Linked DNA regions of Homo sapiens. The protein of the gene in region 2 purifies or fractionates together with the protein of the main gene of each other region. This does not show direct contact. Each region holds a gene or a part of one and is shown on either strand. Other genes may lie near its edges.

Region 1 (3,500 bases), on a different chromosome or scaffold from region 2:
AATATGACAATGTAATAGTTCCCTTTAGAAGACTACATTACTAATTAGTAAAACATTTCTAGGCTGGGCATGGTGGCTCACGCCTGTAATCCTAGCACTTTGGGAGGCCGAGGTGAGTGGATCACCTGAGGTCAGGAGTTTGAGACCAGCCCGGCCAACATGGTGAAACCCCGTCTCTACTAAAAATATAAAAATTAGCCAGGTGTGGTGGTGGGCACCTATAATCCCAGCTACTCGGGAGGCTGAGGCAGGAGAATCGCTTGAACCCGGGGGGATGGAGGTTGCAGTGAGCCGAGATCGCGCCAGTTCACTCCAGCCTGCGTGAAAGAGCGAAACTCTGTCTCAAAAAACAAAAAACAAACAAACAAACAAAAACACTTCTAGAGGGTCGGGTGTGGTGGCTCACACCTGTAATCCCAGTACTTTGGGAGGCCAAGGCAGGAGGATTGCTTGAGCCCAGGAGTTCGAGGCTGCAGTGAGCCAGGATCATGCCACTGTACTCCAGACTGAGCCAAACAGTGAGACCCCATCTCTTAAAATAAAAAAATTTAAAAAATAAAAAAAAGAAAGTTTGCCAACTGATATGGTTAGGCTCTGTGTCCCCACTCAAATCTCACCTTGAATTGTAATTCCCATAATCCCCACGTGTCAAGGGCAGGACCAGGTGGGGGCGGTTTCCCCCATGCTGTTCTGGTGATTTTGAGTGAGTTGCATGAGACCTGATGGTTTTATAAGCGTCTGGCATTTCCCCTGCCTGCACTGACTGTAAGTTTCCTGAGGCCTCCCCAGCAATGTGGAACAGCGAGTCAATTAAACCTCTTTCCTTTATAAATTACCCAGTCTCAGGCAGTTCTTCATAGCAGCGTGAGAATGGGCTACTACACCAATCCTTGGTTGAAATTAGTAAGTTATAAAACCATCACAGCATAGTAGACGCATTCTTCAAAGTGTGCTCCCAAGGAGTCCTACACGAGAATCACCTGGGCTGCCTGTTAGAATGCAGACTCCTAGACCCCACCCCAGACCTAATTAATCAGAATTTCTGGAAGTGAAGGCCTGGGAATTCACATTTCTAGTAAGTACCTTTTTAGAAGGAATCTAAAAATATTATTAAGAGTAATCTGATATTGTGGAAAAAATATCTCCTGTACTTTCTAGGAGGATAAATGGAATAAGAAACTCCGTAAGTGTAATTTTTGTAAAAAAAAAAAAAACTGATTACTTTCATATAATACAGTAGTCATTTGGATTTAAGATACAATCTAGGCCGGGTGCGGTGGCTCACGCCTGTAATCCCAGCACTTTGGGAGGCCGAGGCAGGTGGATCACGAGGTCAGGAGATCGAGACCATCCTGGCTAACACGGTGAAACCCCGTCTCTACTAAAAATACAAAAAATTAGCCAGGTGTGGTGGCGGGCACCTGTAGTCCCAGCTACTGGGGAGGCTGAGGCAGGAGAATGGCGTGAACCGGGGAGGCGGAGCTTGCAGTGAGCAGAGACTGCGCCACTGCACTCCAGCCTGGGCGACAGAGCGAGACTCTGTCTCAAAAAAAAAAAAAAAAAAAAAAAAAAAAAAGATACAATCTAGTACACAAAACAAGTTCTACTCCATTTCCATTTTGGATCACCTTTGGCTGAAAGTTTACACCAAGTAATTGAAGCTCTGTAAAACACTAAATACTTCTCCAATTTTTGTTAACAAGAAACATCATGTGACAAAAAGGAAAAAAAAGAAATATCATGTGAAATGTGAAATGCTCTAAGAGTTCCATCCCCTAAACATAGAACATATGTGACAGTACAAAATAAAGGCTAGTAAAGATTTCTGTCCTTTTTTTTTTTTTTGAGACAGGGTCTTGCTCTGTCACCCAGGCTGGAGTGCAGTGGTGCAATCTAGGCTCACTGCAGCCTCAACCTCTGGGACTCAAGCGATCCTCCCACCTCTGCCTCCTGAGTAGCTGGGGCTACAGGGGTGCGCCACCATGCCTGGCTAATTTTTTGTAGAGACAGGGTTTTGCCACGTTGCCCAGGCTGGCCTTGAATTCCCGGGCTCAAGTGATACTCTGGCTGGCCTCAGCTTCCCAAAGTGCTGGGATTGTAGGCATGGGCCACCATGCTTAGTCTTGTCTTGTCTTTTTTTTTTTTTTTGAGCAAGAATCCTGGAGCACAGTGGCACAATCATGGCTTACTGCAGCCTCGACCTCCTGAGCTCAAGCAGTCCTTCCACCTCAGCTTCCCAAGTAGCTGTAACGATAGCCATGAGCCACCACATCCGGTTAATTTGTGTTTTTTGTAGAGACAGGGTTTTGCCATGTTGCCCAGGCTGGACTCGAACTCCTGGGCTCAAGCCATCCACCTCCCTAGGCCTCCCAAAGTGCTGGGATTACAGGCATGAGCCACCACACCAGGCCTCTATGTCCTTTTGACATTCATCAAAAAAGCAGTTTGAAGGCAGGGCGCGGTAGCGCATGCCTGTAATCCCAGCACTCTGGGAGGCCAAGGCAGGTGGATCACTTGAGGTCAGGGGTTTGACCAGCCTGGCCAACACAGTGAAACCCCATCTCTATTAAAAATACAAAAATTAGCTGGGCATGGTGGCATGTGCCCGTAATCCCAGCTACTCAGGAGGCTGAGGTAAGAGAATCACTTGAACCTGGAGGGCGGAGGTTGCAGTGAGCTGAGATTGTGCCACTGAACTCCAGCCTGGGGAAGAGACTCTGTCTTTAAAAAAAAAAAATGCAGTTTGAAGTAAAATTGATATTTAAATAGAGTTGGAAGGAAATGTACCAAATTCATGGGAGTGGTTGTCTCAGTGGGAAGGGAAGAGAAATGGCCCAAGGAAGCTCTGACTTGATAATACTTAATTTCTAAGCATTATAAAAGATAAAGTATGAGCAATGATTTTTGAATGGTGAGTTATGATGCTGGTTAATTTGCTTTCAATAATTTTCTTTTCTTTTTTTTTTTTTTTTTTTGAGACAGAGTCTTACTCTGTTGCCCAGGCTGGAGTGCAGTGGCTCAATCTCTGCTCACTGCAACTGCCTCGTCCTGGGTTCAAGCAATTCTCCTGCCTCAGTCTCCCAAGTAGCTGAGATTACAGGTGCATGCCACCACACCCGGCTAATTTTTTGTTTGTTTGAGATGGAATCTCGCTCTTTCACTCAAGCTGGATTGCAGTGGTATGATCTTGGCTCACTTGAACCTCCGCCTCCCAGGTTCAAGCAATTCTCTGTCTCAGCCTCTGGAGTAGCTGGGATTACAGGGGCCCACGACCACTCCCGGCTAATTTTTGTATTTTCAGTAGAGACGGGGTTTCACTATGTTGGTCAGGCTGGTTTCGAACTCCGGACCTCATGATCCACCCGCCTCAGCCTCCCAAAGTGCTGGGATTACAGGCATGAGCTACCGTGCCCGGCCTAACACCCGGCTAATTTTTACATTTTTATAAGAGATGGGGTTTCACCATGTTGGTCAGGCTAGTCTCGATTGAACTTTTGACC
Region 2 (2,676 bases):
GCTTGGGTCTCCTCCAGCTCTGAGAAGGTCAGGAGGAGGCCCTGGCCTGGGGGCAGCCCAGGAGCAGCTCAGAGGCCCAGGCCCATTCCCTGGGGACACTCAGGAGAGTGAGACCAAGAGTGACAGCTTCAGCAGCAGACTCCAGGGCTGGGCCTGTGTCTCTCCCTGCCCTGTCTCCTCTCTTCCAGCCCCGCATGATCTCCTGTACAGGTTGTATATGCCTTGTTTTTATTTTACAAAGGAGACCTCATGGAAACTTTGCCCTTGAAACCCAATCCTCAGACAGCCGCTCCTGCCTGTGAACCTTGGCTGGCTTCCCTACAGGCCGGGCCCTGGACCTCGGGGTGGGGCACCTAGGGTTGGCCCCATAGCACCTTCCTCCTGCCCAGGCCCCTGGGGCGACCTGCTTGGGGAGCTTCCTGGCTGGTTTCTTAAACCTCCCCTGACCCCTGCCCCTCAGCCCCTGCCACAGGTGAGCGGGATGAGATCTGGGCTCTTCATTTTTTTAAAAGAATGAGTTACATTTATTGATATGGTTTGTCATATGCTTTATAAATGGTCACCCTTTGAAACATGTATTATTACTATTTGGGGGAGAGGGGGACTGTTCATTTTACAGGGGACAAGCAAGACAGGCTCAAGGAGGGAAAGGACAGGCTCAAAGTCATCACAGTGTGGGGCTGGAATGCAGTTGCCCTTCCTTCTTTCTTTTTGCACATCTTCCGTCTCTAGGGTGAGGAGGGGTGTAGGCACAGGCACCCAAGACAGCTGCGGTCCAGCCCCGGCCCCACCTGTGGTCTCAGTGACGCCCCAGAGGCCCCATCTTCCCCACATAATGAGGCTGCTCCATCCTCCTCAAAGCCCAGACCTATTTCATAAGCCCCAGACCCCACCTTCACCCAGGGCCCCAAGAGAACAGAGCTGGAGACACTTCTACTCCTAGCACTGGATGCCTTCTCCCCTCCTGTGAAGCTGTAGGTGGGGGGTGGAGGACACCCCTTTAAGGCAGGCTCGGGGGGCTATGAACTCCAAGACTCCTGGAAGCCAGTAAGAAGTGGGAAGGTAGGCACACCATTTGGGATTTTTATTTTTCACTGAGCTAAGAGAGGAGATTCCAGCTATGGAATCCAGAGAGCGTTCTACAGGAACAGAACAGAAATTGGCTGGGCCCTGGGCCCAGAGGAGGCCTGGAGCCGCTTACTGTTCAGTGCCAGCTTCATCCTTGGCACTCTGCCTCTCACACAGCATCGCTCCGGCTCCCAGAGCCCACAGTGGCAGCCGCTGGAGGCTGTGGCAGCAGCTGCTGCCCTGCCCAAGGAGGGATGTGGGCTTGGCTCTGACAGTTCAAGCCAGAAAGAGCCTTAGAAGTCATTCAGGACATTCCCATTTTACAGATGATGAAATAAGGCTCAGAGAGAGCAGGGGCTTTCAAGAACAATAAAGGTGGAGACTGGAACTCAGGCCTCCTGTCTGCTGAGGGTGTCTGCCCATGCTCTCTCTCAGAGTTTCTGAGTGGTGGTGTCTGGAGGGGCTGGACACGCAAGGGAGCTGGCCTCGTGTGTGTCTGTCTGTGCCGGGATGTATCTGTGGCTTCTGTCTCTGAACGTGCCAGGGGTTTTGTGTCCTGTGTGTGTCTCTCTGTGGGTGCTCCTGTGTGCAGGAACTTGGGGCCATGGCCAGAGAGGGATGGGCCTATTCCTACAATCTTGGGAGGCCTCCACAGGCTGAGCTGGTGGGGAGGGTCCTGAAGGGTAGAGTGAAGATGGGGACTTTACTCCCAGCGGAGAGGAAGAAACCAGAAGATAGGCTTGGGGCATGGATGGGAAAGGTCTTGGAACTAGGATGGGGCAAGGGAAACAAAGCCCCAAATGGAGTATGGGTCCCTGGAAGTTGACACACTCTTAGCCCTCATGGGGGCCCAGCCCAGTGGGTAACCCCGGGGAAGTGGTCACATGACGTGACACTTCTCAGCTGATTGCTTGAGATCCCCCAGTGTGGCCTGGGCCTTGTCCTTGAGTGAGCCCAGGTTCAAGCCAGGAAGGCTGGCCAGCTGCCCAAGGACTGAGGCCTTCTCCTCCTCCTCCTCTGTGTCCTCCTCGATCATCTTGGCCAGCTCCCGGGGCAGCTCCACGTCTCCACCTGCCATCTGGATCTGGCTCTCATCTGTCTCGTTCTGAAGGGAAGAGGGGAAGAGGGGGTGGGGTGGAGTGGAAGTCTGTGAGGACCCAGAGTTGAGAGGACAGGGAGGAGGCTTGGACTGGGTTCCAGGCCCCTAGATTCTATTTTTTCTTTTTTTTTTTTTTTGTAGAGACGAGGTCTCCCTATGTTGCCCACGCTGGTCTCAAACTCCTGGGCTCAAGTGATATGCCCACCTTGGCCTCCCAAAGTGCCGGGGGAATACAGGAATGAGCCACTGTGCCCGGCCCCTTAGATTCTTGAGCCCCATGTTCCAGTGAGCTCAGCTCCCACCCCCACATCCCAGGATCAAGCGTTTGATGCCTGGACATGGAGACCTTTTTATATTACCTTATTTCACTCTGAGATGCTGAAGGACCAGCACAGTGAGTAAAGACAAAATGAAAATACCTATGAGTCACACTGTTACAGTCAGCTAAGTCATGTTTTGACTCTTGTTATGCTTAAGGGTGTAACCAAAAATAGTGATGGGTACCATTT
Region 3 (3,921 bases), on a different chromosome or scaffold from region 2:
ATAAGAAAAGCCAGTCCCTGGATCTTCACAGACAAAAGAAAACACAGGAGGTTGCTGTGGGTTTGAAGGACTTGGTGTATCTAACTTGAATGACAGCTTCACCTCAGTTGGCTCTCAGTTTCCCATGAAGCTAGAATTCCATCCCTATTTCTTCCATTGTCCCATGGATTGGCTGGCTTACGAGTCAGGAACTTCTCATAAGCAAAGCCTGAGGGCTCTGGGCAGATACTGGAAAAAAGACAAAGGCTCGGGTAAGGCTTACTTAACTTGTTAGCAATTCTGGTAGACAGGGAGTAGGTGGGCATTGGAATCACAGGCTAAAATGAAGCCTGGCTGGAATACCTAGGGACCATTTGCCATGATATTCACATTTACTGCAAAGTAATTATATATATGTCTATGTCCGTTTCCTAGGAACCATATTGTGAACTGGATGGATTTCTTTTATTTTTCTTTCCTTTTTTCAATGCTTATTTTCATTCAGAAAATTGGGAAATGAATTTTCTTTCATGATTTTAATCATTTCTTTGCCAGTGTTGTATACAACACATTCACGTAAAACTCTCAAAGGCGGCCATCTGAGCACTCTGCCAACCTGGCCCACCCACAGAGCTTTGCCTAGAAGCTTTGTCTTTTATAGAACTTAGCTCGAGCAATGATATCATTGACGAAGTCATTGTCTATGTCCGATGGGGTGGCAATCGCTTCAATTCCTGACTTAAAAGCTGAGAGACCACCTGAAATGAAACACAGAGAATTAGGCTCAAATATTAACTTTCAACAGAAATAAGCAATGAGCATTGCCAAGATGTTAGCTTTCCAGGCAAATCTTCCAAAGCAGGCAGTCCCAAATCCTCCTCCCTCTCCCTCCCTTTCTGAAAGGACGTGCTATCCCAAGAATCACTGGGAAAATTCCAGATTGCTTTCTTTCTCTTTTTCCAAAGTCTTTGGTTTTTCTTGTTGCAAAAATCAGATTTGCTTTTTTATGTAATCCAGGCCTGGCAGAACTAGACTCCCAGTACATCCTCTGCTGAAAATGCTTGTAACATTCTCTCATTTATTCAATAATTCACTCATCTATTCACTCACTCATTTATTCATTCAGGAAATGTTTTCAAGCACCTACTATGTGCCAGGAGAGGTGCCACACTGACTGCAAGGTACCCAAGACACACTTATTTCTTTGGGTATGTGTACATATGCATGTGTGTGCTATTTTACCCTAGAATTTTATCTCTAGTAGTTATGTATGTGTTTAACATAATTGTGCTCTGCTCTGATATCCAGAGAGGAAGATGCCTGGTCCTGATCCCTGCCTTCAAGGACCTTGAAGTAGAGACTAGAAACTGTTCTGATTAAGGCCGTTAGAGTGTGGAGGACATAACATTGGCCAATAGGAGGCAAACCTAATAGGAATTGATGTGGTTGGGTGTGAAGAGAGAAGGAACCAGAGAGCCTAAGAAAGCAATCTGGTTTTCAGGCTGGGATGACTGGCTATATTATGGTGCCTCCAAGACATGTAAAATGCAGAAGAAAGAGCAAATTTATAGTGGGAAGTTAGTGAGTTAATTCCATCTGGGAGATGCTGAACTTGAGGGGGCCTGTGGTCAGCCAAGCAGAGATTTCCACTTGGATATATAGCACCTGAAGTCCCGAAAATACTCACAGAGTAACATTGTTCAGACAATTTGGAAAGTTGTTGACAGTTTCTTATAACAGGAAAAAACCTATGAGAGGTAGGCAAACAGATAGATAGATAGATAGATAGATAGATAGATAGATAGATAGATAGATAAATTTTTTTTTGAGAGATGGGGTCTCACTCTGTCTCCCAGGCTGGAGTGCAGTGATGTAATCAATGCTCACTGCAGCCTTAACCTCCCAGGCACAAGCAATCCTCCTGGCTTAGCCTCCTGAGTAGCTGGGACTGTGTGTCACCATGCCCAGCTTTTTTTTTTTTTTTTTTTTTTTTTGTAGAGACAGGGTCTCACTATGTTTCAAGGTATCACTCAATAGCTCAGTAAGCAATGAATAAGAACCCCAACATTCTGCAGAAGAGGAAATGGAGGTTGAGGATGGAGGACCTCTCAAAGTAACTCAGTGGTTCAGGGAATGCAAATGCAGCCTCTAGACAGCTCCTCCCAGGGCCACTGCTGACCCCGTGGAAATGCTCCCAGGGAGTCTCGGGTCACACTGGCCTTCAGTGGTCTCATTCATTGCTCATTTAAACAAAGTACTCAGAATACAGCCTACCTTTGAGGTGCTGAGCAACACTCCACGTGGGGAATTTTTTCTGGATTGCCTTAATTCTCTCTGTTAGAATCCCAGTAGCCTGTGAAAGGTGCTCTTTGCTATCCCAGGCACCGACAGGGTGGTACGTTTGTTTATCAAGCTAGAAAATTCAGATAATAAAGTCAGCATCTGGATGAGGTAACACATTTTTTCTGCCATTCCTAATTTCCTCTCCTGGTATTCAAGTCATAGATACCGGCCTTTATCCCCAAAGAGTCAATTCTATTGTTCTTTCTTTCATATAGATGAGAGTCAGAGAAACAAAGTAAGGTTTGGGAGAAATGGACATGGTATAGTTTTAGCTAAACATTCTAATATACAAAAAAAAAATTTAAGTTGTTTTGAAACAAATAACACCCAAAGTCTACACATTTATAGTAATAAATAATTATCCAGCTAATTCAGATAAAAATTTGTTTCTAACTGGGAAGGCCAGAAGTCTGTATTTCTACAGACAATTTAAAATCGAGCCTGGAAGCAAATATCCAGATAATTTGGATCCCCTTCCTCCAGTTTACCCAAAGGAACAAGTTGTTTCAAGTAGGGCACAGTTATACCATGTTTTGATCCACATGGATGAAATTTACTACTTCATGAACCCCAAGAGGACACCTGTAACAATAATGCTATTTATAAGATTTTCTCAGTTTTAGTGTATTACATATTATTTATTGCAGAATGGTAGTTATGAAACTCCTAAAATACTTTTTAAAATATATCTAATAATGAATAAGCCTTGAATAAAATAAAAAGATGTGTTACAGAAATCCCAGATCAAATTATGCTGGAGTGGCCGGGCACAGTGGCTCAAGCTTGTAATCCCAGCACTTTGGGAGACTGAGGTGGGTGGATCACCTGAGGTCAGGAGTTCAAGACCAGCCTGGCCAACAAGGTGAAATCCCGTCTCTACTAAAAATACAAAAAATTAGCTGGGCATGGTGGCGTGTGCCTGTAATCCCAGCTACTCAGGAGGCTGAGGGAGGAGAATCACTTGAACCCGGGAGTGGAGGTTGCAGTGAGCCGAGATCACGCCATTGCACTCCAGCCTGGGTAACAAGAATGAAACTCCATCTCAAAAAAAAAAAAAAAATTATGCTGGAGTACCTGTAGCCAGATGCCAGGGTATTTTGGGGCTTGGAAGCACTGCAAATGGATTTCTAGTTCAGGTTGAGCTTCTGTGAGGAGGGATGCAGTGGGGCTGATAGAAAGTTTCTAGCTAAATACCTGCATCAAGCCAAATTTAAGTCCCCTGTGGTCCCAGCCGTCTTGCAGGACAGATCCGCCATGGCTTTCCCTGGAGATGATGGCTGCGATGACAGCAGGGTCCACGCAATGTCTCTGCCCGACTTCTTTGATCAGAGTCTGGTAAGGTTTTATGGCCCTCAAATCCATCTCAGCAAACATTTCAGAACCACGGATCCCTACGTCAATAGAAAAGAAACTGTTTTTCCGGGCATGGTAGTGTGTGCCTGAAGTCAGTTCCTGCTACACAGGAGGCTGAAACAGGAGGATTGCTTGAACCCAGGAGGAGTTCGAAACCAGCCTGGGCATCATAGTGAGAGCCCATCTCTAATTAAAAAAAAAAAAAAAAAGAATTTAAAGTTAAAAAAAGAAAAGAAACTGTTTCTT
Region 4 (3,500 bases), on a different chromosome or scaffold from region 2:
AAAGTGAAAAACAGATCACGAAGTTGTATATGTATGTATCTTGACTATAACTACATACAATTGAATGGCTGACATCGATAAAAATTAAGAATAAATTTCAGATAACATAACATTTTATCTACCTTGCGTTCTTTTTCCTAAAACGTTAAGTGCATAATAAAAAAGAAAATGCTATGAGAGGATCTCATATGGGCTAAGATAGCTCCCCAATCTCATATTCATTTGGGGCTACAGGGAAAATTTCATGGGCTAGTCGGTGGCCATCAGACTACAGAGCCCAGGGTGAGAGGAAATACTTCCCACCTCTTTAAGGTCACCAAGCCCCTCTATTTACAGAATGGAGAAACCCTAAAATAAGGTGGGGAAAATACCACCAATAAAGTAAGAAATTAGGCAATTTGTTTTTACCATCAAACCTTTAGCTCTTTTCAACAAAACCACTTTAATATTTTTTAAAGTTAATCATGTTAAAGCAATTCCATTAATATCAAGTCAACTCTGAATTCACCATCTCCTATAAAGCTCAATAGCCCATTCATAAACAATAATAATTGCTAACCACTTTTTTCCTCATTCGGATCCTAGATATTATGATTACACATGTAAGAAAAAATGTTCTGCATGGAGGTATAATATTATAGCTATTACAGGTTTGCCAATAAAAAATATAACCACACTGGAGATGATATTCCTAGAGACCTGTTTCAATGCTTGCTGGTGTTTTAGAACAGAATGAATTTCACTTAATGTGCTGTGGCATTGCCTTATCTCATTTTTACCTTGTGCACAGGTTAGATTTTGGTGGACATAGCTGGCTTGCCATCTAGCTAACTGAGGATAATAAACCATCATAATAAAAAATATTGTGTGCTATGGATCAATCAGTTACTATTCATGGTTTAGCTGTAAATTTAATCATCTCAACACTCCTTGTATTAATAAATAAATTCCAATGAATATTTTAGACAATATGTTTTATGAAAATTCATAGGCAATGATAGCACAAAGAATTAGGAGAATGTGAACAATTTTAAATGAAAGGGCAACAATTTTGAGTAAGATACATATAAACAGTCTTAAGGAGGGTATTGTGTAAACTGTAATCCTAAATAGAAGACTTCTAATATTTTCTTTCAGCTCAATATTATTTATTCATTGGGCAAATATTTATTGAATGTATATTATATGCCAATTACTGTTGCTCTGGAAAGATGCAGCAAGGTCCTTGCCTGCATTATAGAAGTAGCAATCCAGCAGTAAGCAATACTTATTTAAAAATTAGTTATAAATGTTAAAAAAAAAAAGAAAGAAAGAAAAGTAAAAAAGGCCAGGCAGAATGGCTCATGCTTGTAATCCAAGCACTTTAAGAGGCCAAGGCAGGTGGATTGCTGGAGCCCAGGAGTTCAAGACCACCCTGGGCAATATGGCAAAACCCTGTCTCTACTAAATGTATATATATTAGCCAGGCATGGTGCCACACACCTGTAGTCCCAGCTTCTCAGGAGACTGAGGTGGGAGAATCACTTAAACCTAGGAATCCAAGGCTGCAGTGAGTCATGTTCGTGCCACTGCACTCCAGCCTGGGCAATAGGAATGAGACTCTGTCTCAAAAATAACAAGAATAATAATAATAATAATAAATTAAATAAATGTTAAAAAAAAGTACAAGGTGCTTTATGACTAAGAAAGCATGAAAAATCTAGTGTTTTAAGTCAATATTTGGTATTAGGGAGAGTTAACCACCCCCCTAGCCCACCAAGGAATTTCCATTTATTTTCTGTTTCCTCTCTTCCATTTCAGCTACCTCGGCAATCCTTACGGCTAAGCAGGTTTTATCTCCAGGATTTTATGAAATCCCAATCCTGGTGAAGGACAGCTATAACAGAGCATGTGAATTGGCACAAATGGTGCAGTTATATGCCTGTGATTGCGATGACAACCACATGTGCCTGGACTCTGGTGCCGCGGGCATCTACACAGAGGACATAACTGGTGACACGTATGGGCCTGTCACTGAAGACCAAGCTGGAGTTTCAAATGTTGGTCTTGGACCAGCAGGGATTGGCATGATGGTTCTGGGCATCCTGCTACTGATTTGTAAGTACTCAATTAAATCCTTCTTTTCAATAGTTCTTCAAAATAGGGCTGTTACGAGGCTCGCTGGGATGGTTAGGTTCATGGAGCCATTTCTTTTTGGTATCTCTAGCAATTTTTGAGTGCCTTAGAAATAAACAATGGGACTGACAAATATATGCGCTTAATCCACAATGATAACTAAGAAAGCCTAGGGTGAGTGACAGTCCTAAAAATGGGAAACACATGCAAATCACTACATATACTACCTAAAAGCACAAAACAAATCCCATCATGGAAATTTCCTTAAAATGCTTTAAGAGTAGAGAGGCAGAAGCAATTAAGTCCATGTGGAAAAGTTAGGACAATCTTTTGGAAAAGTGGATTTTGAGGTGAGCCTGAAAAGCTGAGGATTTTTTTTTTCTTTTTTTCTTTTTCTTTTTTTTGAGATGGAATCTTGCTCTATTGCCCAGGCTGGAGTGCAGTGGCGCAACCTCGGCTCACTGCAACTTCTGCCTCCCAGGTTCAAATGATTCTCCTGCCTCAGCCTCCCGAGTAGCTGGGACTACAGGCGCCCACCACCACGACTGGCTAATTTTTGTACTTTTAGTAGAGACGGGGTTTCACCATGATAGCCAGGATGGTCTTGAACTCCTGACCTCGTGGTCCACCTGCCTTGGGCTCCCAAAGTGCTGGGATTACAGGCATGAGCCACTGCACCCTGCTGAGGATTTCTTTTAAAGGAGGATGATGTCTAAGGAAATTTGAAAGGTAATCAAACACACACACACAAAAAAAAACCACACACACAAACAAAAGGGAGCAAGATATGGAAGAGCATAGCACACCTAGGAAGCAGAGAGGCAAAAGGGAGTCTGGGAGCCAGCATGGAGGCATGTTCATGACACACCAGGCATTCTGGGCTTCAGTACAATGGCACAGAAGAGTTGATGAGGGCTGATGAGCGCAGGTGACCCTGCGGTAGGAAGCAAGTAGAAGAGACTAGAACAGAGAATTAGCCTCTGGGCTCTGGGTGAGTGCCTAAACTAAGACTGGTCACAGAAGTGGAAAGATCACCAAACAAAAATTTCCCAAAAAGGGCCCTCCTTTCCCCATAGAGTTTTTTTAAACATATAGATCCTCAGAGGAAGAATACTTCATACATTTTAGGTTGCCCTTGCAATATTTAGGTTTCATGGGGATCAAAAGCTGGGTTCTAAAATTAAAGAGAAGTAAATTTGTCAAACTGTATTGTTGCTGTTTTCAGGGATGAGCACTAATTAAAATGTAATCATTTCAAGGCATAAAAAATAACAGCTGACTTTTGGTGAGGATTTCTTTTTTGAAATAATCTGTGAGGTTTCAAAGCTATGCAAAGATCATGAGTGATTCTCACAATGATATTAGACACATTTTCCCAGAATATA
Region 5 (3,500 bases), on a different chromosome or scaffold from region 2:
CTATATTACCCTTAAAAGTCTTAGGGATTGGTGACACCTCATAGCTCTGGAAATATGAGTGAAAGTTAGGTCTAAAAATAGAAAGATCCCTTCAAAGTCTTGTTTTCGAAGCAGTTAGGATAGATGTCAGATCCCCTCTCCCATCCGCAGATGACTAGACGACTCCCTACTCAACCCAGCAGAAAACTGCAAACTTGCAGGAAAGAGTAACATAGAGCCTCTTACAGGATGGATGCAAGCCACAGCTGAAAGCAGCGGTACTACTGAAAACGGCTTAAATAAAAGTGTACACAGTACATGTTGAGATCACCAACCCAGGTCCAGAACAACAGCAGGTTATGAAATACTTTCTCTCCAGAATGTGATCAGACCTAAAAATACTAACATCAGGGATTCCCCAACAGAAGAGCCCAGCCAGATCACCCACAGTAAACAAGGCCGAGAAACACCCAAGACCCACAGTAAACCAAACCCATCAGGTACACGGAATTTCCAATGGAACACTGAAAAGTCAGAATCACCAGACACTCGAGAAGAGCCTCCACTGAAAAGATAGGTACCGAACAAACTGGAGAAAGTAACCTGGAGGACATAGACCATGACAGAAAGAAGAGAACCTTTTAAAAAAATCCTTAGGAAGATCTCGTTTATTAAGCCACTACATCCATAAAATAACAAGGTGTTATTAAATAAACAAATAAGAGTCTGAGAACAAAAACAACTTCAAAAGTAAAAATATGACAGGAGAAATGTAAAAATTAAGTAGAAGACCTGAAAACTGAAGTTGAAGAAACCTTCCAGAAGATTCTGCAAAAAAGATGAAAAACTGAAGAGAAAAGGTAAAGTCAGAGACTAGTTTAAAAGGTCCAAAATCTAAATAAAGGCATTAAAAAAGAAAATGGAGGTGAAAAGATAGAATAAAAAATTTAAGAAAATTCCCCTGAACTAAAGGATAAGATGGGACGAGCCCCCAGATAAGAAGGGCCCCTCCAGTTTGTCTGTGATGGATAAAAACAGACACATAGCCAAACTGACTATGAAATGTAGAACAGAGGATAGAAAAGCTTCCTAAGAGAGGCCGGGCGCCGTGGCTCACACCTGTAATCCCAGCACTTTGGGAGGCCGAGGCAGGCGGATCACGAGGTCAGGAGATCGAGACTATCCTGGCTAACATGGTGAAACCCTGTCTCTAATAAAAATACAAAAAAAATTAGCCAGGCGTGGTGGCGGGCACCTGTAGTTCCAGCTACTTGGGAGGCTGAGGCAGGAGAATGGCATGAACCTGGGAGGCAGAGCTTGCAGTGAGCCAAGATCACACCACTGCACTCCAGCCTGGGCAACAGAGTGAGACTCCATCTCAAAAAAAAAACAAAACAAAACAAAACAAAAAAAAACAAGAAAAAGAGAAGAAAAGAAAAGCTTCGGCCAGGCACAGTGGCTCATGCCTGTAATATCAGCACTTTGGGAGGCCGAGGCGGGCAGATCACAAGGTCAGGAGATGGAGACCACCCTGGCTAACAAGGTGAAACCCCGTCTCTACAAAAAATTAGCCGGGCGTGGTGGCAGGCACCTGTAGTCCCAGCTACTCAGGAGGCTGAGGCAGGAGAATGGCATGAACCCAGGAGGCGGAGCTTGCAGTGAGCAGAGATCACACCACTGCACTCCAGCCTGGGAAACAGAGCGAGACTCTGCCTCGAAAAACAAAAAACAACAACAAAAAAAAGGAACACTTCCAAAGAGAAAGAACACGTCTCAGACAAAGGTATGAGGATCAGAATATCACCGCACTTCTCAACAGTAATAATACGATAGTGGAACAAAATTCTAGAAAAATTATTTTCATCCTGCACTTCTGTACCCTCCCAAACTAAAGTTTGAGCAGTGAATCAAAGTTTGCAGACACACAAGGTCTCAAAAATGTAACTCTTATGCACTTTCTCTATTAGAAGATGTGCTTCACTAAAACAAGGGAATAATCCAAGAAAGAAGGGTTTCCAACTCAGGTGCTAAAAAGAATCCCCAGGCCGGGCGCGGTGGCTCACGCTTGCAATCCCAACACTTTGGGAGGCTGAGGCAGGTGGATCACGAGGTCAGGAGATCAACACCATCCTGGCTAACACGGTGAAACCCCGTCTCTACTGAAAATACAAAAAATTAGCCAGGTATGGTGGCACATGCCTGTAGTCCCAGCTACTCGGGAGGCTAAGGCAGGAGAATCACTTGAACCTGGGAGGCAGAGGGAGCAGTGAGCCAAGATCGCGCCACTGCACTCCAGCCTGGGCAACAAAACGAGACTCCGTCTCAAACAAAAAAAAAAAATCCCCAAGATGACAGTAAAAAGAATAGCCCAGGCCACATATGGTGGCTCATGCCTGTAATCCCTGCACTTTGGGAGGCCGAGGTGGGTGGATCATGTGAGGTATGGAGTTCGAGACCAGCCTGGCCAACATGATGAAACCCCATCTCTACTAAAAATACAAAACTTAGCCAGGCATAGTGGTGGGCGCCTGTAATCCCAGCTACTCAGGAGGCTGAGGCAGGAAAATCACTTGAGCCCAAGGGTGGAGGTTGCAGTGAACTGAGATTGTGCCAGTACACTCCAGCCTGGGCAACAACAGCAAAACTCCATCTCAAAAAAAAAAATAGCCCAGGCTGACCGTGATGCTTCAGGTGCAGGGGGTAACCTGTTCAGATCAAGCCGGTCAGAAGGCTCCACAAGGGACTTTTCTCAAGTAGATAAAAGCGATCATAGCACTTGATGCGTTTAAATATACTAAGAAAAAACTTACATAACTGGGATTTATTTTCAAAATAATCTGGTCATAGTTATATACACTATGCAAACAAAAAAGATAATTAGTAACTCCAAGGAAAGCAAAAACTTGTGCAGGAAAAGTAATCACAGTACCCGCCATGGTTCAGTTGTGAAGCATATTTACACAGTCACAATGGATATGAACACATCTGCCCAAAATCACACTTCTGAATGGAAAGCTAGGGATGGGGACAAAAACGAGCTTGAATGTGGCAGGGAAACAGGGATAAGAGAAAACTAAATCCTTATCTTCCACAGAGAGAAGCCCGGAAATAATGGAGAAAACTAACAGAAAAAGAAAAAAAATGCAAGTGTTACAATTATATAAGCATGTTGCTTAAAGACAGGGAGATGAAAAACCAAAAGAATTAGTTAAAATGTTTCAAGATGACTGCCTTAGGGGAACAGGAAATGGGACAGGGGGGTTGGGGGATTGCTTTTTCCAAAACAAACTTTATTGCAACTTGACATTTAATGAGCATGTGGAATTCTGATAAAAATAAAAAACTTAAAAAATCATAGCCAGAAAAGTTCATCCTCATTTATACACACATACTGGAGAGTCCCTACTGACTAACAAGAAGCTAAGCTGTTAGCTATAAGCCCCTTTCCTTTATCTAAGTTCTCATTGCAACTGCTGTTATATACAAGGTAAAAATAACCAGAAGAGTAAATATGGAAAATG
Region 6 (2,921 bases), on a different chromosome or scaffold from region 2:
AAGGGAAGGCTTATGCATGTGTGTACACCCACACCCACACACACACACACACACTCCACTCTCCAGGTGAGTCACCTTCCCCCTGCTGTGAAAGAGATGCAAGAAAGGACCTCTCTCCCAGCAGCAAGACAGGGACACCATTAATTCACTCTGACCTTAGGGAAATATGTACGCTCTCTGAGCCTTGGTCTCCTCCTTTGTACAGTGAGGACAGGAGAAGCCAGGGGAAGAGGAACTCTAAGGTCCCTCCTAGCTCTATTATTCTTTGTTTGACTGAATATTTTCAGCTTCTCTATGTACTAGGAGCTTTACACACCTCCCCCATTTAATCCTTGCATGCCCATGAAAGGTATATGTTAGTATTCCCTTTCCATATATGAAGAAATTAAGGCACAGGGAGGGTAAGCCACTTGCCTTAAACTTGGAGCCAGTCAGTGTCCCAGCCAGGATTCAAGCCCAGCTCTGTCTGAGACCAGGCTCCCTCCAAATTCGCCATAGTACTTTTGACTGACTCTCCACATTTGCCTTATCATCTGCTCTCAATAGCAGCTGCTGGGCCAGGCACGGTGGCTCACGCCTGTAATCCTAGCGCTTTGGGAGGCCAAGGCGGGCGGATCGCCTGAGGTCAGGAGTTTGAGACCAGCCTGGCTAACATGGTAAAACCCCGTTTCTACTAAAAATACAAAAAATTAGCCAGGTGCGGTGGTGCATGCCTGTAATCCCAGCTACTCGGGAGGCAGAGGCAGGAGAATCGCTTGAACCCGGGAGGCAGAGGTTGCAGTGAGCCGAGATCATGCCATTGCCCTCCAGCTTGGGCAACAAGAGCGAAACTCTGTCTCAAAAAAAAAAAAAAAAATAGCAGCTGCTGGGGCAGGCCCAGAGGGAGGGTCTCCCACAGGGATTCCAGGTTTGATTTGATGGCACTGATAACCCAAGGAAACCCCAACAGGTCCCAGAGTCCCTGATCTTCCACTCACCCCCGACTGCCCTCATCCAGGGCCCTCTCACCTTGGTTTATGGAGCTGTGGAAGGACTCCTGGTAGGACAGCTCTGAGTGGTAGCTGTGCTGGGAGGTGTAAGACCCAGCTCGATAGGGGTAATGGTGCCCACTGATCTTGGCCCACTTGTAGGAGAGGGGCTGGGAGCCCCCACTGGCATAGCACTTCAGCACCACATCGTTGCCATATGTCATGTGGCCCTCTGTCCAGCACATGGGCACTGCAGGTCGTGCTGCAAGGAGGCAGACAATTGTAAGCCAGGGCCCAGCCAAGAGACAGAGCCAGGCTCAAAGTGGCCAAGCTGCCCTTGGCTCTTAAGCCAGGGGGAGAGGAGCTTAGAGGAGTCTGGCCATACCTTGGACAGTGACAATGACCTTCCGGGTGGCCATGGTGGTCTTCTTCACCCGGCACTCATAAGTGGCTGTATCAGATACCTGCAGGTTCATGAGGTTGATGGAGGCATCGTACTGGCTTGGGTCTGAGGCTGCAAAGCGGACCCTCTGCTGCAGATGGGGAAGGCTGCCATGGTTGATCCTCTTGTCCTGGTAACTAAGGAACTGTGAAGAGGAGAGGAAAACAGGTGGTGAAACAGGCAGAGCCAAGAAGGGCCATGTGGATTGGCTGCTTTGGGCAATTCACTGAACTTCTCTGAGACTCTTTTCTCAGCTGAAAAAATGAGAATAATGATGCCTGAGCCACTGACCTCTTACAGAACTGGTGAGATCAGGTGAGATCAAGCACTTGGAAAGATATATGGTCAGACTGGGAACTTTTTGAAGGCAAAGACTACAACTTATCTTCCTTTTAGAATGGGATGGGAGGAGGTAGACTGACTGGCTAGCTTAATTCACAATTGCAGAGCTCTCATCCCCATTGCCTCATTCCCTGAAAGGCCTTGGGGGAGGTTCAAGGTCAGTCTTCTCCCTTTGGGATGTTGGCTGTCCAACAGGTAGACATCATGAAGCCTAGAGGAAGGAGACCCCTGTGCCCAGCACTCACCACGTTCTCTCGGTGGTGGGCGGGGTCTGAGTTGACCTGCATCCACTCGATGTCCAGCCCATTGGGACCATAGTCCTCAGGGTCCAGGACGTAGGGGCAGCCCAGCCTCACATTATCACCTTCTGCCAGGTACAGGACCTCCTGTCCATCCCCGTTGATCCGCACAGCAGACAGCAGTGCTAGGGGGAGGGCAGAGAAGATGGGGTGGTAGGAGCAGAAGCAGGGCTTCAGGAGGAGTCAGTGTCAGCCCTTCCCTTCATATTCTCTGTCCACGGCACCCAGAGGTCAGCAGTGCTTTCATAAAAAGGAGGGCTGCTCGTAGTGGGTGTGTATGTGTGTGTGCATGAATTGTCACAGGCATATAACAGCTATACATATAGCTGTTATATATGTAGCTGTTATGTATGCTTGTATGTATATATGATTATGTGTATGCATGTATGAATATGTACACGTATGTACATTGTATGCTTATGAGTATTTGTGGCTGCTTATGTGTACTGTGAGGATATTCATGTACATGACCACGTAGCGTGTCTGCTTATATATTTATATGATAGTGTGGATGTGTTTGTGTGTGTGAAGGCATGTGGTACACACAGAGTTGTTAAATGCTCTGATAGAAGAGCCTGGCTGATTAAATGTCACCTATGTGGGCTCTGTCTGGGCTGAGTGAAGTCCTCCTGTCCAGAGGCAGCGGGGTGGTTACAATGGCTTCTGGGACTCCTCTCCAGCCTGAGAAGCCAAAGACTAAGTGTGTCTATGTGTGTCTGTGTATGACAGTGTGAGTCTGTGGCTGTATGCCTCTGTGTGGTTTTGTATAGTGATGTGTGACCATGTGAGCTATGTAAGTGCTTAAAAGTGACAGTGTGTGCTTGTGCATGACAGTGGACAGCTGTGACCAGGAGCCTGGCTGTGTTCGTG
Region 7 (2,391 bases), on a different chromosome or scaffold from region 2:
AGTTCCCGTTTGAGAAATTCTCAAGGGCACTTTATCAGTTTCCTTCTTCCTGGAATAACTCCTGGCATGTAACAGGCACTCACTGGTGCCAGATGCGTGAACACAAGCCTGCCACCTGCCACCTGCTGTGAGTCCTTGCTCCCTCACCTCCACTCCTGTCTATCTCCGGCCCAGCCTCTCCCTCTCTGCCCCACGTCTCCCAATCCTTGGCTGTCTCTGACCCCATTTCTCCCCCTTTGACTTGGGCTTTTTCTTTTTTCTTTTTTGAGACGGAGTCTCGCTCTGTTGCCCAGGCTGGAGTACAATGGCATGATCTTGGCTCACTGCAACCTCCACCTCCCGGGTTCAAGAGATTCTCCTGTCTCAGCCTCCCAAGTAGCTGGGATTACAGGCACGCACCACCACGCCTGGCTAATTTTTGTAGTTTTAGTAGAGACGGGGGTTCCGCCATGTTGCCCAGGCTGGTCTTGAACTCCTAGGCTCAAGCAATCTGGCAATCTGCCTGCCTTAGCCTCCCAAAGTGCTGGCATTACAGGCGTGAGCCACCACGCCCGGCTGGCTCTTTTGGACACTTGACCACCTTCTCTGGGTCTCACACTCACAGCCACACCCAAACCCTCTCCCTCTGGCTCTCCGACTCCATCACAGTCACCCCAGCCCCCATCTCCCTGTGGCTCCATCTGCTGTGTGGTGGCAGACAGGCCCCAGAGTGGGGTTGGGGATCTGGGAACTCCAAGTTCTGACCCCAGCCCACTCTCCAAATCCCCTCCACATGAGGGTCACAGTGCTGTACTGTCTCATCTGCCTTGGAGCCCATGGAAAGCCTTTCTCTCTGGCTCTCTTTCTTGGTTAGGATGTTGTGCTGGGCTTGTTCCAGCTCATCAGGAGGAACTCAGCCTAGTAGCAGAGGCCATTGGCCGGCTCTCTTTGGGGCTTTTGGTAATGAAAGCTGCATTCTCCAATCACTAAGTGCTATGCCCTGCAGTGCATGGACGACTCCTCACCACCCTGTGTACTAGCTTTTTTTTTTTTTTTTTGAGAGGCAGGCTCTTGCTCTGTCACCCAGGCACAATCACGGCTCACTGCAGCCTCAGCCTCCCGGGCTCAAGCCATCCTCAAGCCTCAGCCTCCTGAGTAGCTGGGACCATAGGTGTGAGCCACCACACCAGGCCCTGGCCATTTTAGAGAGGAAAATGGAGGCTCAAAGAGATGAAGTCAAGTGCCCAGGGCCCCTCCTGGAGTCAGTAGAGTGAGGATTCCAACCCCGGTGCACCAGAATCCAGAACATTCTACCATGCTGCCCTGGGGGCCAGACCCTCTCAGATACCAGCTCCTAATCTTCCCCTTCCTGGAGGGGCCTCTCCCTGCCCCAGAACCCCTACCAGGCACATCCCCCTTTCATGTCCTCCCCACCCCACACACGCCCCTTGCCCTTCTCCTTCCTTATTTGGCCTCTTTCAGGGTCACCCAACCCCTGCCAGGGACTGGCAACAAGCTAAGGTGTGGGCCTGTGGATGGCCACAGTGCAGACGGCCACAGCTGAGCAGGGGGACTTGGAGACAATGGGATGGGAGAGAACAGGTCCTGTCCCCACGACCACCCCAGGACCCTGTCCACACCTGCTGCATTCAGTGCCAGCCTCAGCTCGTAGGAGTTCATGGTTCCAGAGGTGTCCTCATCGAACTTGTTAAATATGGCCTGGGCAGGAAGGATGAGTCAGGGCTGCCCTCCATGCCCTGAAGAGGGCTGCCAATGGGGCCTCCCAGGCAAGACAGCCTGGTGCCCATCCCAACTCCCTTTCTTCTGGTGTGGACCCCCAGCAAGCAGCCTAGCCACTTGGGACTTCTGTTTCCCAATCTGTAAAATGGGAATAAGAGCAATGACCCAGAGGACAAGCTGAGGCTGGGTGGGGGCAGGGATATCCCAGCCAGATCTCTCCAAGTCAGCCTAGTCCAGTACCCCCTCGTTCCCTGGGGACCTGATAGCCCACAGGGTGCCTATGTCTCTGTTAGTAAAGGTTTCTCTCTTTCTGGGAAGAGGCCCAGTCTCCCACCTCACCTGCCACTCCAGGAGGTAGCCCCAGAGCTGCTGGAAGTGGTGTAAGGCCAGGCTTTGCCCATGCTGTGTTGGGGGTCGGGGGCATCTGGTTAAGGTCAATCTCTCCAGAAGGGGAGGAGAGACCCCAACGTCCCCTTCCCCACTCCCTCCCTCACCCAGGCACTGCCCCCCATGTACCCCGAAACACTGCAGCAGCTGCTCACAGGTCCTGAGCCCGATCTCTCTGGGGGTGGAGGTATGGGCCCTGGCTACAGGAAAAACAAAGTCAAACCACAGCACTTCCTGCATTCTGGCCACCACTTTAAGGGCTGGGTGGATGTGACTCCCTTAAGC

Evidence for each region.
Region 1: the proteins of CPLX3 (region 2) and DUSP14 purify together in Homo sapiens (affinity purification with mass spectrometry; 2 studies listed by BioGRID and IntAct, with this or other methods). This does not show direct contact.
Region 3: the proteins of CPLX3 (region 2) and LYG2 purify together in Homo sapiens (affinity purification with mass spectrometry; 2 studies listed by BioGRID and IntAct, with this or other methods). This does not show direct contact.
Region 4: the proteins of CPLX3 (region 2) and DSG4 purify together in Homo sapiens (affinity purification with mass spectrometry; 2 studies listed by BioGRID and IntAct, with this or other methods). This does not show direct contact.
Region 5: the proteins of CPLX3 (region 2) and ATE1 purify together in Homo sapiens (affinity purification with mass spectrometry; one large-scale study listed by BioGRID and IntAct). This does not show direct contact.
Region 6: the proteins of CPLX3 (region 2) and VSIG8 purify together in Homo sapiens (affinity purification with mass spectrometry; 2 studies listed by BioGRID and IntAct, with this or other methods). This does not show direct contact.
Region 7: the proteins of CPLX3 (region 2) and CAPN12 purify together in Homo sapiens (affinity purification with mass spectrometry; one large-scale study listed by BioGRID and IntAct). This does not show direct contact.

Annotation. Positions count from the first base shown.
Region 1 is NC_000017.11:37,496,391-37,499,890, reverse strand, and holds part of DUSP14 (dual specificity protein phosphatase 14), read right to left. Parts: intron 1-3,500. UniProt on the Homo sapiens protein: Involved in the inactivation of MAP kinases. Dephosphorylates ERK, JNK and p38 MAP-kinases. Plays a negative role in TCR signaling by dephosphorylating MAP3K7 adapter TAB1 leading to its inactivation.
Region 2 is NC_000015.10:74,829,627-74,832,302, reverse strand, and holds the end of CPLX3 (complexin-3), read right to left. Parts: exon of another isoform or gene 2,602-2,676; intron 2,174-2,601; coding exon 1,949-2,173; 3' UTR 501-1,948; downstream 1-500.
Region 3 is NC_000002.12:99,241,746-99,245,666, forward strand, and holds the end of LYG2 (lysozyme g-like protein 2 precursor), read right to left. Parts: intron 3,714-3,921; coding exon 3,517-3,713; intron 2,393-3,516; coding exon 2,254-2,392; intron 738-2,253; coding exon 619-737; 3' UTR 501-618; downstream 1-500. UniProt on the Homo sapiens protein: May act as a potent antibacterial protein that may play a role in the innate immunity.
Region 4 is NC_000018.10:31,404,277-31,407,776, forward strand, and holds part of DSG4 (desmoglein-4 isoform 2 preproprotein), read left to right. Parts: intron 1-1,800; coding exon 1,801-2,097; intron 2,098-3,500.
Region 5 is NC_000010.11:121,914,532-121,918,031, forward strand, and holds part of ATE1 (arginyl-tRNA--protein transferase 1), read right to left. Parts: intron 1-3,500. UniProt on the Homo sapiens protein: Involved in the post-translational conjugation of arginine to the N-terminal aspartate or glutamate of a protein. This arginylation is required for degradation of the protein via the ubiquitin pathway. Does not arginylate cysteine residues.
Region 6 is NC_000001.11:159,856,737-159,859,657, forward strand, and holds part of VSIG8 (V-set and immunoglobulin domain-containing protein 8 precursor), read right to left. Parts: intron 2,177-2,921; coding exon 1,998-2,176; intron 1,556-1,997; coding exon 1,354-1,555; intron 1,231-1,353; coding exon 1,009-1,230; intron 1-1,008.
Region 7 is NC_000019.10:38,732,084-38,734,474, forward strand, and holds part of CAPN12 (calpain-12), read right to left. Parts: intron 2,307-2,391; coding exon 2,236-2,306; intron 2,122-2,235; coding exon 2,059-2,121; exon of another isoform or gene 2,055-2,058; intron 1,858-2,054; coding exon of another isoform or gene 1,829-1,857; exon of another isoform or gene 1,699-1,828; coding exon 1,620-1,698; exon of another isoform or gene 1,619-1,619; intron 1-1,618. UniProt on the Homo sapiens protein: Calcium-regulated non-lysosomal thiol-protease.